2 linked regions of the Homo sapiens genome follow. The protein of the gene in region 2 purifies or fractionates together with the protein of the main gene of each other region. This does not show direct contact. Each region holds a gene or a part of one and is shown on either strand. Other genes may lie near its edges.

Region 1 (4,857 bases), on a different chromosome or scaffold from region 2:
AAACAAAAAAACATTTCCTAGGCACCTGTACTGTCCTGGGGCCCAGAGGGCCTTTCCTAAAGCCTAACATCAAGGCCCTAGAGGCAGTGAGGCACGACTCCACTTCCCCTGAGTCTGGTTGCAAATTAACTCACCAAGCTATTTTTTCTCAAGAATTTCATGGAGAGCTTTTGAAAGCCACACCCTTTGAGACCCAAGTATGGAATAAGAACCCGCACCCCGACCCCTGCCCTGCGCAGTGAGGATTCCCGCGTGCAGCCGAAGCCCCAGCAAGACACTTCCAAACCAGCGCTAGCAGGGGAGATGAACTTTCCACGTTGCTGATGGAAAAGCCACCCCCAGCTCTTCCCGCCAACCCAGGTCTCTGGTGCAGGACAGAGGAGCGTCACAGCTGGGCCACTGGCCCGGCCCCCAGCCCAACCGAGTGTGGGGACACCTCCGGTGGAGAATGAAGAACCAAAGTACCTCAAAGCTTGGCGTGTCTGCCAGAGCTGGAGCAGCAGCCAGAGGGACGCCTCTCCCCCTGGGCTCAGCAAAAGCTCCCAGACGTCGTCTCTTCCAAGTTCCACCGCACAGCCAGCTCTTTCTCTTCACTGGGAGGTTCCGCAGGGGCTGACTTGCTCCTTAAGGTCCCAAGACTATTAAGGGACACCCAGTGAGGCTGGGAAAGGGGCTCTAAGAGGCATGGACGAAGAGTCGGGGGTAACCAAGCCACTGGAAGCTCCTGGAGACTCGAGGCAGAGCGAATCTGGGAACAGGGCAGGAGTCCCAGAATGGGATGTTGAGGATGGGGGTGTCCTGGGGCTACCACAGGGAAGGACCCGGCGCAGAGCTCCCTCCGGAGCCCGGCACTGCGGCCCGCGCCCTCTACTCCCCGCGCGCCGGCCAACAACCCTCGGCGCTGCCCCGCAATCTTCAGCGCTGCCTGGTGAGGAGCTTTCAGACGTGGCTGCGGTCCCAGGGTGGCCGGCGGGAGCCAGGGAAATGGGAGAAGGAAGGAAGGAGCAGGTTTTGCCCCCAGCTCCCTCTCCCCACCCCCGACCGAGGGGCCATGTCTCGGGGAGGGGCGCTGGCCGAGGGCAGAGCAGGAGGGCCCAGGTGGGCTGGGGCTCTAAGAGGCGCACCTTTTAGCCGGGGATGTCAAAGGACGCTGGCAGAGTCACTTCTCATCTAACTGACCACAAATGAACGTTGTAACCCTTCCTCACCCCCCCAATCGCCAGAGAACCTGGGAGCTCCTGGGAGGACAAAGGCCCTAGTGAAGGAAGTCGAATCTTAATCTTGGCCCTCCTCGCTCTTGGGGGCATCCTTGCAGCCAAGGGACTTGGAATCCAAACCCTTCCCAAGGCCCCAACCTCAGCCCTAAGCCAAGACCCAGGCACCTTGATGACACAGGAATCCGTGCTGCCTCCCGGTGCAGTGTCCCAGCTGGGAGGAGTTGAAAGACCAGGTGGCCTTAGGAGCTGTGCCCTCCCTGCCCTAGCCTCCGCCCAGAGGCGCAGGCTTGATAACATGTTCCAATGAATACAGGATATGTTTCAGTAAATAAAAGCTCCCCACCCACCCCTTACAAATAACAGCTCAGCCTGGCCTGGTGGCATATGACTGTAATCCCGGCACTTTGGGAGGCAAGGCAGGCAGATCACTTGAGGTCAGGAGTTCAAGACCAGCCTGGTCAACGTGGCAAAACCCCATCTCTACTGAAAATACAAAATTTAGCCGCGCATGGTAGCACATGCCTGTAATCCCAGCTACTAGGTAGGCTGAGACAGGAGAATAGCTTGAACCCCGGAGGTGGAGGCTGCAGTGAGCGGAGATGGGGCCATTGCACTCCAGACTGGGTGACAAAGCGAGACTCCATCTCAAAAACAAAGAAACAAACGGGCAGAGTCCAGTAATCTGAAAAGGATAGAGCATTGGGAGGTCCTTTAATCCATGGTGGTATCTGAAACGAGGAGTCCCTGCTGCTGGGAGTAGAAATTAGCAGTCTTTCCTGGCTGTGGTTTGGCAATGAATTAAGATCCTTAACAATGGTCATAAGTTTTCTGAATGTATCTTAAGGAAATAAACCAGCAACAATGATTTCTACACAAGGTTTATAAAAGTGTTGTTTGTGATACTAAAAAGGTTACATACAACAAAAAAGATTAGAAAGATGTGTGCCAGAATGCCAACCATAATAACTTCTGTGATCAAACTGCTGTGATCCCAGCACTTTGGGTGGCCAAAGCGGATGGATCACTTGAGGTCAGGAGTTCGAGACCAGCCTGACCACCAGGGTGAAGCCCTGTCTCTACTAAAAACACAAAAATTAGCCGGGCATGGTGGTGGGCACCCGTAATCCCAGCTACTCGGGAGGGTAAGGCAGGAGAATCACTTGAACCTGGGAGGTAGAGGCTGCAATGAGCTGAGATCATGCTGCTGCACTCCAGCCTGGGTAACAGAGTGAGACTCTGTCTCAAAAAAAAAAAAAAAAAAGAAAAAGAAAAAGAAAAGAAAAACCACCTACTGGGTACTATGCTTATTACGTGGGTGATGAAATAATCTGTACACCAAACCCCCAGGTTGTACAATTTAGCTATATACGAAACCCATACATATACCCCATGAGTCTACAATAAAAGTTGGAAGGAAAAAAAAAAAAGAAATAATTGCTTTATTAGCCTTACATGATGGAATATTAGGGGGGCCTCATCTGACTTAAGCCGAAACTGTACTAATCATTTGGCAAAATCAGGAGTCTTTCTGCCTCCAAATATTCAGTAATAACATCAAACCTTAACTTAGCTATGGGTCGGAGCTGAGTTAATAAAATCCTCTATATTTCTTTTTTTTTTTTTTTTTGAGACGGAGTCTAGCTCTGTTGCCAGGCTGGAGTGCAGTGGCGCAATCTCGGCTCACTGCAACCTCCGCCTCCAGGGTTCAAGCGATTCTCCTGCCTCAGCCTACTAAATAGTTGGGATGACAGGCACGTGTCGCCACACCCAGCCAATTTTTGTATTTTTAGTGGAGATGGGGTTTCACCATGTTGGCCAGGATGGTCTCGATCTCCTGACCTTGTGATTCACCCACCTCGGCCTCCCAAAGTGCTGGGATTACAGGCGTGAGCCACCGCTCCCGGCCTCTTGCTTTTTATTTACCTCTTGCAGCTATGCTGTGATTCAGAGTCAGAAACTATCAACATCTGGTCTGTAAATAATTTCATATTCACCAGACACAGTCATAATTATCCAACACGTAGATTTCACATGGCATGTGAATCCCACTGAAAACTCATCTACCTGGGGAAGAACTAGGGGACTTTCACCAAAGACCTCATGGAAGTTCCAAGGTCGTTAGGCAGAGCCTTGTAAAGCATGGCTGTAGATGAGTAATAAAGACAGGTGTGTGCAACCTCTGCCCTCCCTATTCTTTGCCATTCCAAACCCTTTCCCTCGAAAAAGGTACATGTGATCTTCCATTTTGACTTTTTTATTTATTTATTTATTTATTTTAACAGATAGGGTCTCACTCTGTCACCCAGGCTACAGTACAGTGGTGCAATCATAGCACACTGCAGCCTCAAGCTCCTGGGCTCAAGTGATCCTCCCACCTTGGCCTCCCAAAGTGTTGAGATTACAGGAATGAACCACCATGCTCGGCCTCATTTTGAACATTTTAATTAGAAAGTTACAAAACATCATGGGTTCTTTATACAAGATTTGCATTAGAATAATTTAATAAAATGCAAACCAATGTTTATACGTATCTTGTCATCTTTCCATATCTCATTGCCTTATGTGAATTTAAACAAGAAACTATTTTTCGTTTAGATCTTAAGAAAAAAATTTAGGCATATAAAACAGCCTGAATATTAAAAAAAGACAAGGGGGTCAGTGTTAGGGAATTCCTCTGCTTGAATACTTCAAAATAGCTTTGTTTCCAAAACTGTTTTAGTAAGCCTAAAGGAGCACTAAAAACGACAACTGATCTCCAAAGTAAACTGAGGCACACACTGAGGGGTGTGTTTCTGGGTGGGCATGAAGCATGGATCACCGGGGCCATGTCCTTCCAGTGGCAATGACCTGCTTGGGATCAGGAAGCAGCTCCATGTGTTCTTGGAGGAGACTGCCCACATCCTCAGGAGGTGAATGGGCTGAACAAGCCATCTTCCGTGTGCAGAGGCCCCTTCCAGCCATCTCTGCTCCTGCAGACACTTGCTTAGCCACGAGGGTAATCCACTGGACTGCTTGGTATTCTGCTAGTGGCCAGGCTGGACTGGCCTGCCCAGGCCAGCATCCTCTTTACACTCTTACTGCTTCTTGTGTCCTTCCCAAAGCTGCCCGCCCCACTCTGATGGGCACCCTGTTCCTTAGTCAAGGGAAACGCCAGCCGCTGGGCTTCCCGCTAGCCTTCCAAATAAACTTGTGGTTGTCAGGCAGCGGGAGCCAATCCCAACACCAACCCCTGTCGCCCCTGTCCTTTGCAGGAAGGGGGAGGGCTGTCAAGGAGGAGGAGGGCCAAGTGCCCAGGCTGTTGGGTGAGGGCCAGAAAGAACCTGTTGTGACAATGCTTTCTTCCCCCAGTGCTGCTGAGGGGGCTGAGAATGAAACAGCCCCTCTGACTTCAGCCTGCCATCCAGGGGCACAGACAGAGGGAAAAATAGGGCAAAGAGCCCAGTCACAGTACGGCAAAGATCCAGGGCTGCTCAGCTGAGCTGATGACAGATGACTGACTGTTGGGCTGGGGCAGGTGGACGGTCCAAGTGTCCTTCAGCGGCCCTCCCTGATTGCCTGTGCTAATGCGGCCCTTGCCCTTGGGCCCTGCCCCTCCAGGTCTCCAGTTAAAGGCCTCAGCTCTGGAAATCAAAGCTGTGAA
Region 2 (9,746 bases):
CAGCTACCCAGAAGGCTGAGGTGAGAGGATTGCTTCAGCCTGGGAAGTCAAGGCTGCAGTAAGCCGTGATGGCATGGCACCACTACATTCCAGCCTGGACAAAAGTGAGAACCTCATCTCAAAAAATAAAAATAAAAATCAGTCGGGCGTGGTGGCTCACGCCTGTAATCCCAACACTTTGGGAGGCTGAGGTGGGTGGATGACCTGAGGTCAGGAGTTCGAGACCAGCCTGGCCAACATGGTGAAACCCTGTCTCTACTAAAAATACAAAAATTGGCCAGGTATGGTGGCGCACACCTGTAATCCCAGCTACTTGGGAGGCTGAGGCAGGAGAATCACTTGAAACCTGGGAGGTGGAGGTTGCAGTGAGCCGAGATCATGCCACTGCACTCCAGCAACAAAGTGAGACTCCATCTCAAAAAAAAAATAATGATAATAATTGAAAAAAAAATAATAATAAAACAAAATCCACACTAACGACTTTAATTAGTATGTATTAGATAGGTAAGTAATTTCCTAATGTGTTACCATAGTATTAATACAATTGGAAGAGAATGAAATTGAATGAGAAATGAATTTGCATTCGTCTTGGAGAAAACCCAGCAAGGTCAATTGGAGGAAGTAGGGTAGGTTCTATGGCTCCTCTGAAGGGGGTTCTTTGCTCCTTCAGGGATTCCGAAGGTCAGTAACACTGTTTTATGTCTAATTTCCTTATACATGTGTCAACACCACTTCTCTTCTGCTTATTAACCAGGATCAAGGTTGCTTTTTGGCTCAGACATGAAATAAAAGCTAACCCCTTCCACCTTGAAGGCAACAAAATGTCATCACCACACTGATTTCGTACCTCATCAACCTGGGTTCTCCGTCTGGACATTTTCCCTACCGTTTATTTCCCAACTGCTGACTTTTCTCCAGCCCTCAGGGTCATTCCACAGCCTATCTAGCTGGCCTGGGTGGCAGAGCCCAGGGCTTGACAAGCTCGACCTCTGGGTTCCGTTTGCAAATGAGGATCTAGGTCTGGGCCCAGTGCCTTGAGCACCAGCTAGATGAGCAAACAGCAGCCTGAGTGCCCCGTGGGGGTGGAGTCCAACAGGACTCCCTCCCCAAGTCAGAGAGTGGTCTGGGGCACCTCAAGCTCACAGACATATCACATTATCCATGACCAAGAGGGGGAAGGGAGGGTCCTCATCACCATGACCCCAATCACAAGGAGTAGGCACAATACAGGTGTGTGTCTGTATGGGCCGTTGTGTGAATTCCAGCCTACTGAGCCTAGCTGACCTCAGAGGAGATGGAAAGGGTAGGGACAGGATCCAGAGGGCTGATCCCTACCCACCAGGCAGAGGAGAGGGGCAGAGCAGCATCTGCAGGGAGAGCTGGGCAGGGGCAAAGCAGATGCGCACACTCATTGGGCTCTTTCTGGTCCCAAAAGGCAATTCCATTAATTAGCTCAATAAAAAAAGCTTTCCATTCAAAGTATTTACAGACTCAAGGCTCCCCAAGAAACCGGGAAGTTACCTAACTTGCTACCAGGGAACAGAGGAAAGAGGTTGGAACCCCAGGTTTTCATTCTAGCTCTGCCAAAACTCACTGTGACCTTAGGCCTCTCCAACATAACCCGATGAGCTGGATCTCCATGACTCAAAGGATATTTTGGATTCAGAGGTGAAATCAGGCCTGATGAAGAAGCTTTAAAGTCTGGTTTACCTTTATTCCATGTACATGTGGTATATCTTTTTCCCTTTGTGTACGAGCTACTTGCCAATTCAACACTGCAAATACCTTTGGCCAGAGGCACTGAGCTGTCAAGTCTTTCTATCTGGCCCCCATGATCCCTGCTATTATTAGATCTGTTGCACCCTTTTTTTTTTTTTGTGAGACGGAGTCTTGCTCTGTCGCCCAGGCTGGAGTGCAGTGGCGCAATCTCGGCTCACAGCAAGCTCCGCCTCCCGGGTTCCTACCATTCTCCTGCCTCAGCCTCCCGAGTAGCTGGGACTACAGGCGCCCACCACCACGCCCGGCTAATTTTTTTTTTTTATTTTTAGTAGAGACGGGGTTTCACCTGTGTTAGGCAGGATGCTCTCGATCTCCTGACCTCGTGATCCACCCGCCTCGGCCTCCCAAAGTGCTGGGATTACAGATATGAGCCACCGTGCCCAGCCGATCTGTTGCACCTTAATTACTTTCTTTCCTGACAGCTTTATTGAGATATAATTCACATACTATACAATCCACCTACTTAAAGTGTGCAATTCGATGGTTTCTGGTATAGTCACAAAGCTGTGACTATCAGCAGATTCTATTTTAGAACATTTTATCACTCTGCGAAGAAATCCTTTACCCACGGCAGTCTCTCCCCATTTCCTCCCAACTCCTCCACCTCCGGCATCCACTAATCTGCTGTCTCTATACATTGCCCATTCTGGACATTGCATATAAATTGAGTCATACAATATGTGGTCTTTTGTGTCTGGCTTCTATCACAATATTTTCAATCACTTTATTTTCTTTTAAGTTAACAAAATTACCTTTATAAATTACAAAGTCAATTCTCAAATGCCTGTATTCCTGGCAATCAAAAACAGCAATGCAAACTGAAGTGCACTAACAATCTTCAAACCTTGCTTGGACTTTGTTTTAATGTATTTTATTTTATTTTGTTTTATTTTTAGAGTCAGGATCTTGCTCTGTCATCCAGGTTGGAGTGTGATGGTGTAATCAGAGCTCACTGTAGCCTCAAACTCCTAGGCTCCAGCGATCCTCTTTCCTCAGCATCCCAAGTAGCTGGGACTGCAGGGACATGCCACCACATTCGACTAATTTTTTAAATTTTTCATAGAGACAAGGTCTCACTATGTTGCCCAGGCTGGTCTTAAACTCCTGGCCTCGGCCTGGCACGGTGGCTAACGCCTATAATCCCAGCACTTTGGGAGGCCGAGGCAGGTGGATCACGGGGTCAGGAGTTCGAGACCAGCCTGGCCAACATGGTGAAACCCCGTCTCTATTTAAAAAATACAAAAATTAGCCAGGTGGTGGTGGGCGCCTGTAATCCCAGCTACTTGGGAGGCTAAGGCAGGAGAATCACCTGAACCTAGGAGGCAGAGGTTGCAGTGAGCCGAGATTGTGCCATTGCACTCCAGCATGGGTGACAAGAGCAAGACTCCGTCTCAAAAAAAACCAACCAAACAAACAAAAAAACTGGCCTCAAGCAATCCTCTTGCATTGACCTCCCAAAGTGCTGGGATTATAAGTGTGAGCCACTGCTCCCAGCCTAGACTTTCTTTCACAAAGACTGTTGTTGGCCAGGCGCAATGGCTCATGCCTGTAATCCCAACATGGTTGGGGTTTAAGAGGTTGGGGTGGGCAGATCACTTAAGCCCAGGAGTTAATGACCAGCCTGGGCAACATGGCGAAACCCATTTCTACAAATAATAAAAAAATTAGCCAGATGTGGTGGCGCACACCTGTGGTTCCAGCTACTTGGAAGGCTGAGGCGGGAGGATCCCTTGAGCCTGGGAGGATGAGGAGGCAATGAGCTGTGATTGCACCACTGCACTCCAGCCTGGGTGACAGAATGAAACCCTGTCTCAAAAAAACAAAAACAGAAAATCAAAAAAGTCATTGTGAATAAGAAGAAAAAGACATGCCAAGTTTCCTGCCTGGAGATCTAACCCCTGGGCAAACGTCCAGTTAAGCCGCAGTCAAGCCTCAGGAAGATGACCTACTGGGTTGGGCTCTAATGCTGCGACTACAGTTGGTAGTCACAGCAACCAAGTTACAGGCTTTATTGTACCCGGGTTTGACTTACGTATTATTTCGAGCCAGCCATCACTAAGATCAGCGTAATCGGAGTTGCCTCTCATTGCAACGTGAGTCGCTTGTATTAATGAATCAAGTCTTTCAACAGCATTCTCCCTGCAAGAGAGTAAGACATTTCTCAGCTCATGGCCAGCAGGTCTTGTCCTAAAGTCATTTCCAGTGAATGTCCGGGTTTCACTTCCGAGTGCCTAAATTAAAAACTGCCAGAGGAACTGGCATTAAAAACTGGCTGGGTGTCACCCATGGACTAGGTGTGTCTGATGGCCTTCCCAGGATGGACCCACACACCTGGGGGAGAACATACAGAAGCAATCTTTTACTTTAGACTTAAAATGTTAGTAACTTGGCCGGGTGCAGTGGCTCACACCTGTAATCCCAACCCTTTGGGAGGCTGAGGTGGGAGGATTGCTTGAGCTCAGGAGTTCAAGACCAGCCTGGGCAACAGGGCAAAACCCTGCCTCTACAAAAAATACAAAAATTAGCCAGGCATGGTGGTATGCACCTATAGTTCCAACTACTTGGGAGGCTGAGGTGGGAGGAGCGCATAAGCCTGGTGGGGTTAAGGCTACAGTGAGCTGAGATCGTACCACTGCACTCCAGCCTGGGTGACAGAGCAAGATCCTGTCTCAAAAAAAAAAAAAAAATGTTAGTAACTTAAGTTGGGAATCACATGGTTCACAAACTCTGCCGACTGTCACCAAACTTAGGAGGTAGTTAGAGCACACATCAAGTTAGCAGGATACATTCGTGGGCCAGAGTGATCCAACAGTAAAAGTAACCTATATATCTAGCTGGAATTTTGAGTCATAAAATTAAGTGAAGACTAAGAGTTGGAACGTAGCATTCCCTCCTTCCCAGTACTGTCACTGGAGGGTACAAATCTCATGAACTGCAGGAGAGGGACTCTGCCCATGGACTCAGGCCTCAAAACCTATAATCAGGAGCTGCTGCCAATAATTTATACCAGTTTTCCTTAACTTCTCAATGTTACCCCCATTTCTTCCTGCTTCCCAAAGAACTACACATCTTGGGATATGTAACAGATAAAACGTGTGTAAGAGTGCATGCAGGCCGGGCATAATGGTTCATGCTTGTAACCCCAGCACTTTGGGAGGCCAAGGCAGGAGGATCGTTTGAGCCCAGCAGTTTGAGAGCAGCCTGAGCAACACGGTGAAACCCCATCTCTACAAAAAATACGAAAAATCAGCCAGGCACACACCTGTACTCCAAGATACTCGGGAGGGTGAAGTGGGAGGATCACCTGAGCTCAAGAGGGTCAGGCTGCAACGAGCCGTGATCACACCACTGCGCTCCAGTCTGGGTGATGGAGTGAGACCTTGTCTCAAAAAACAAGCCAAAAAGAACGCATGCAATCAAAACCACAATGAGATACCACTTAGTATCTATTAGGATGGCTACTGTCAAAAAAAAAAACAAAAACAAAAAAACAAAAAACAAGGCTGGGCACAGTGGCTCACACCTGTAATCCCAGCACTTTAGGAGGCTGAGGAGGGCAGATCACCTGAGGTCAGGAGTTCAAGACCAGCCTGACTAACATGGAGAAACCCCATCTCTACTAAAAATACAAAATTAGCCAGGTGAGGTGGCACATGCCTGTAATCCCAGCTACTCAGGAGGCTGAGGCAGGAGAATCACTTGAACCTGGGAGGCAGAGGCTGCAGTGAGCTGAGATTATGCCATTGCACTCCAGCCTGGGCAACAAGAGTGAAACTCTGTCTCAAAACAAAAACAAAAACAAAAACAGAACATAGGCCAGCAGAGTGACTCATGCCTGTAATCCCAGCACTTTAGGAAGCCAAGGCAGGTGGAGGACCACCTGAGCCTGGGGAGGTTGGGGCTGCAGTAAGCCATGATTGCACCACTGCACCCGAGCCTGGGAAACACAGTGAGACCCTGTCTCAAAAAAAAAAAAAAAAAAGTTAATCACCCCAGTTACACTTTGCTCTGGCCTTTTTCATAGCTCTAGGAGTATAAGGTTCCAATGAGGCCAGGCGCGGTGGCTTACGCCTATAATCCCAGCACTTTGGGAGGCCAAGGTGGGCAAGGTCACTTGAGGTTAGGAGTTTGAGACCAACATTGTGAAACCCCATCTCTACTAAAAATACAAAAAAAATCAGCAGGCGTGGTGGTGCATGCCTGTAATCCCAGCTGCTAGGGAGGCTAAGGCAGGAGAATTGCTTGAACCGGAGAGGCAGAAGCTGCAATGAGCCGAGATCGCACCACTGCACTCCAGCCTAGGTGACAAAGTGAGACTTCATCTCAACAAAAAAAACCACACAACAACAACAAAAAAGGTTCCAATGAGCTGAACAAACTTTGGCAGAGACATTTGTTTAAATGTGGATGAAATTTGCTTAAATGTGGATGAACTGGCTTTAGTCCCAAGAAAAAGTTTATTTTCCCTCATATTGATGTTTGAATCAACTCTAAATTGTATTACATGTCTGTATTTATTATCACTTTTACACATTTTAATTGACTCTAATTTTTCATATTCATGCTGTCTTTGATATTCATGTAGTGAATTAATTCTAGGCAAACCATTCACATTGCCGATATATTCATCAATGAAACACTCACCTGAGCTGAGTACAATTTTCATTAATCCCGACTTCTAACAGGCATCCAGAGAGTACATTTTCTCCAAATAAAATGGGTTTGAAAGTTGCTGATGTACACAGACCCCTTCCAGCTATAAAAGAAAAAGATTATCCTCTTGCTACTTTTTGCTAAACAAAAGTAAAGATTAACTTCAGTTTTCCGTGAAAAACAGAAAACAGTAAGTAGAAATAAAGTTGCCAGTTTTCAAAAACTGAGATCACTGTTAGTCTAATCCTTTCAAAGCTGAACAAAGGTGCCTTTATCAGACTTCTCAGATCCTGAGCGGTGGTTTCTTCAGAAGTGACACTGCCTCTGGCAGGTGTGCGTAATTACCACTGAAGCACAGATTTCCTGCAGTTCAGAACGAAGTTATTTTCATGTCTCCAATTAGCACCATCCTGGGCTACAGGCAACAATAACATGGGACTCTCAAGCCAATCTCATATTTCAATCTTTTCTACTAGCAACCAGCACTTCAGGTGCAAACAATGTTAGCATTCCTTTTTAAAAAGCTGTAGAAGCAGGAAAAACCATCATCACTGTTATTCAGCAGCATGTACCTCTCTGCTAAATAAACCAACTAGGCTTTAAAATAATTGATTGCTTGATTAGATTCAAAATATGGTAATACTTCTAACACCAATTTGCCAAAGGGCTAATCATAATGACCAAACCGGATTACCCGATTGCCAAAGATGTAAAGTCGTGACATTATTCATCCTGTTGATATTTAGAGCTCGGACAGGCTTGCCAAGTTGGTAACCTAGACAAACACAACAAAGGAACGTGAGCCTGTTTCCTCCAGCATAGCAAGCCCTAACTCTGCAAATAATACAAGAGTCATGCACAAGGAAAGAAAACACATAGGCGAAGCTTTCGAAAATACCCTTGAGAGAAAGATGGCAACTTCGGGTCTCAAAAAAAACAGTAGCTAAAGAGAAAGAATGCTTCACATTTACAGCAACTTGTTACTATGTACAACAGACTATGTAAAAAAAAAAAATACATTGTTATCACAAAAAGAATACCATGTCGGCCAGGCGTAGTGGCTCACGCCTGTAATCCTAGCACTTTGGGAGGCCGAGGTGGGTGGATCACCTGAGGTCAGGAGTTCGAGACCAGTATGGCCAATATGGCAAAACCTCATCTCTACTAAAAGTACAAAAATTTGCTGAGGGTGTTGGTGGGCACCTGTAATCCCAGCTACTTGGGAGGCTGAGGCAGGAGAATTGCTTGAACCTGGAAGGTGGAGGTTGCAGTGAGCCCAAATCGTGCCATTGCACTCCAGCCTGGGTGACAAGAGTTAAACTCCGTCTCAAAAAAAAAAAAAATGAATACAGTGCCACAACAGAGAATAAAGAGGCTGGGGCAGTGGCTCATGCCTGTAATCACAACACTTTGGGAGGCTAAGGCCAGGGGATCACTTGAGGTCAGGAATTCAAGACCAGCCTGGCCAACACGGTGAACAACAGCCTATCTCTACTAAAAATATAAAAATTATATTAAAGTGAGCAACCCTGCAAGCCTCTCTTTGGAGAAGTAGCAGATGAATAAAACTTCCTGTGTTGTGTGATTAAAAAAAAAAAAAAAAAGCCAGGCATGGTGGTGTGCACCTGTAATCCCAGCTACTCAGGAGGCTGAGGCAAGAAAATCTCTTGAACCCAGGAGGTGCAGGTTGCAGTGAGCCGAGATTGCGCCACTGCACTCCAGACTAGGCAACAGAGCAAGACTCCGTCTCAAAAAAAGAAAAAGAGAAAATAAAGAAAAAGGTCAGAGTCAGAAACTAAATTGGAGAGAGTTACTTATAACCATCCTGATGGCTGGGAGTGTTGAACTAAAGTATGTTTGTAAGATCAATGACTGGCATATACTCATCTTACCTGGATTTCCAGATAATTCTTCTTCATTACCACTATTATAGCTTAAAAATTTTACTACAAATCTCTGTGTCATTATCCCTAGAAATAAAACAAAATAAAATATAATGTGCACCATTTCACTAGGAAAAGAAATTATTCTCCATAGTGTTTACCTTAAAATTGCATTTTGTCATACAAAGTGTACTCTCGTTAATTAAATCATAAATGCACATAAGAAACAAGTCCAACTTAGTTTTATGGGTTATAATTATGAGAATCTTGAAAAGAGGAAAAAAAAATACTTTTCAGTGAAAGCATGCTTGCTACCCTCATCAAAGTTACCTTTCTGGTGGGCATTAATCTCTGCCCTAAAAATTTTAACATTTATTTCACTGATGGTATTATTATTCCATTTGAAAATATAATGTTCTTCCACATTCACAATTCTAGGGGTTGATCCGTTATTTAAAGGAGTTTCTGCAAATACAAGAATATGTTCATAAATTAAAGACCCTCTTTGAGCCTGACTCTGTTACTGGGAGGTTCTCTCTGCTTGCGTGGCCTTCCCCAAGTGCCCTGCCCCTGCCCTCCCTATCTCCAGCTCCCTAACATGGCACGGTCACTGCTTCCTTGAGGAAGCCTGCCCTGGTCCCACCAAGTCAGCATTAGCTGCCTCCTCTATGCCATCACAGTACCCAGAATGAGATCTGTTCCTTTCATTTCTATATCTCCAGCACCTGGCTCATAGCTTGCCATGGAGCATGCACTTGGTAAAATGTTTGTGAGATGAAAGACCAGAGGGTCAGTTCCGCCAGGGCAGGGGCCCGCTATCTAGTTCCCTACTACGGCGTAGGAACTCCACTAACATTTGATGAGCCAATGAATAAATTTGAGAAGTACAACACATCAGAAAGAGACACCCAGCACTTGGGGAGGCCGAGGTGGGCAGATCACCTGAGGTCAAGAGTTCGAGACCAGCCTGGCCAGCATGGCGAAACCCTGTCTCTACTAAAAATACAAAAATTAGGCCGGGTGCGGTGGCTCACGCCTGTAATCCCAGCACTTTGGGAGGCTGAGGCAGGCAGATCACGAGGTCAGGAGTTCAAGACCAGCCTGGCCAACACAGTGAAACCCCCTCTCTACTAACAATACAAAAAATCAGCCAGGCATGGGGGCAGGCACCTGTAATCCCAGCTACTCGGGAGGCTGAGGCAGAAGAATCGTTTGAACCCAGGAGGCAGAGGTTGCAGTGAGTGGAGACTGTGTCACTACACTCCAGTCTGGGTGACAGTGAGACTGTCTCAAAAAAAAAAAAATACAAAAAAATACAAAAATTAGCCGGGATTGGTGGCAGGTGCCTGTAATCCCAGCTACTCAGGAGGCTAAGGCATGAGAATTGCTTGAACCTGGGAGGTGGAGGGTACAGTGAGCTGAGATCACCCT

What was found.
Region 1: the proteins of TCTN2 (region 2) and TMEM231 purify together in Homo sapiens (affinity purification with mass spectrometry; 5 studies listed by BioGRID and IntAct, with this or other methods). This does not show direct contact.

What each region holds. Positions count from the first base shown.
Region 1 is NC_000016.10:75,534,662-75,539,518, forward strand, and holds the end of TMEM231 (transmembrane protein 231), read right to left. Parts: 3' UTR 2,080-4,857; downstream 1-2,079. UniProt on the Homo sapiens protein: Transmembrane component of the tectonic-like complex, a complex localized at the transition zone of primary cilia and acting as a barrier that prevents diffusion of transmembrane proteins between the cilia and plasma membranes.
Region 2 is NC_000012.12:123,693,876-123,703,621, reverse strand, and holds part of TCTN2 (tectonic-2 isoform 1 precursor), read right to left. Parts: intron 8,781-9,746; coding exon 8,646-8,780; intron 8,403-8,645; coding exon 8,325-8,402; intron 7,208-8,324; coding exon 7,127-7,207; intron 6,536-7,126; coding exon 6,424-6,535; intron 3,919-6,423; coding exon 3,812-3,918; intron 1-3,811.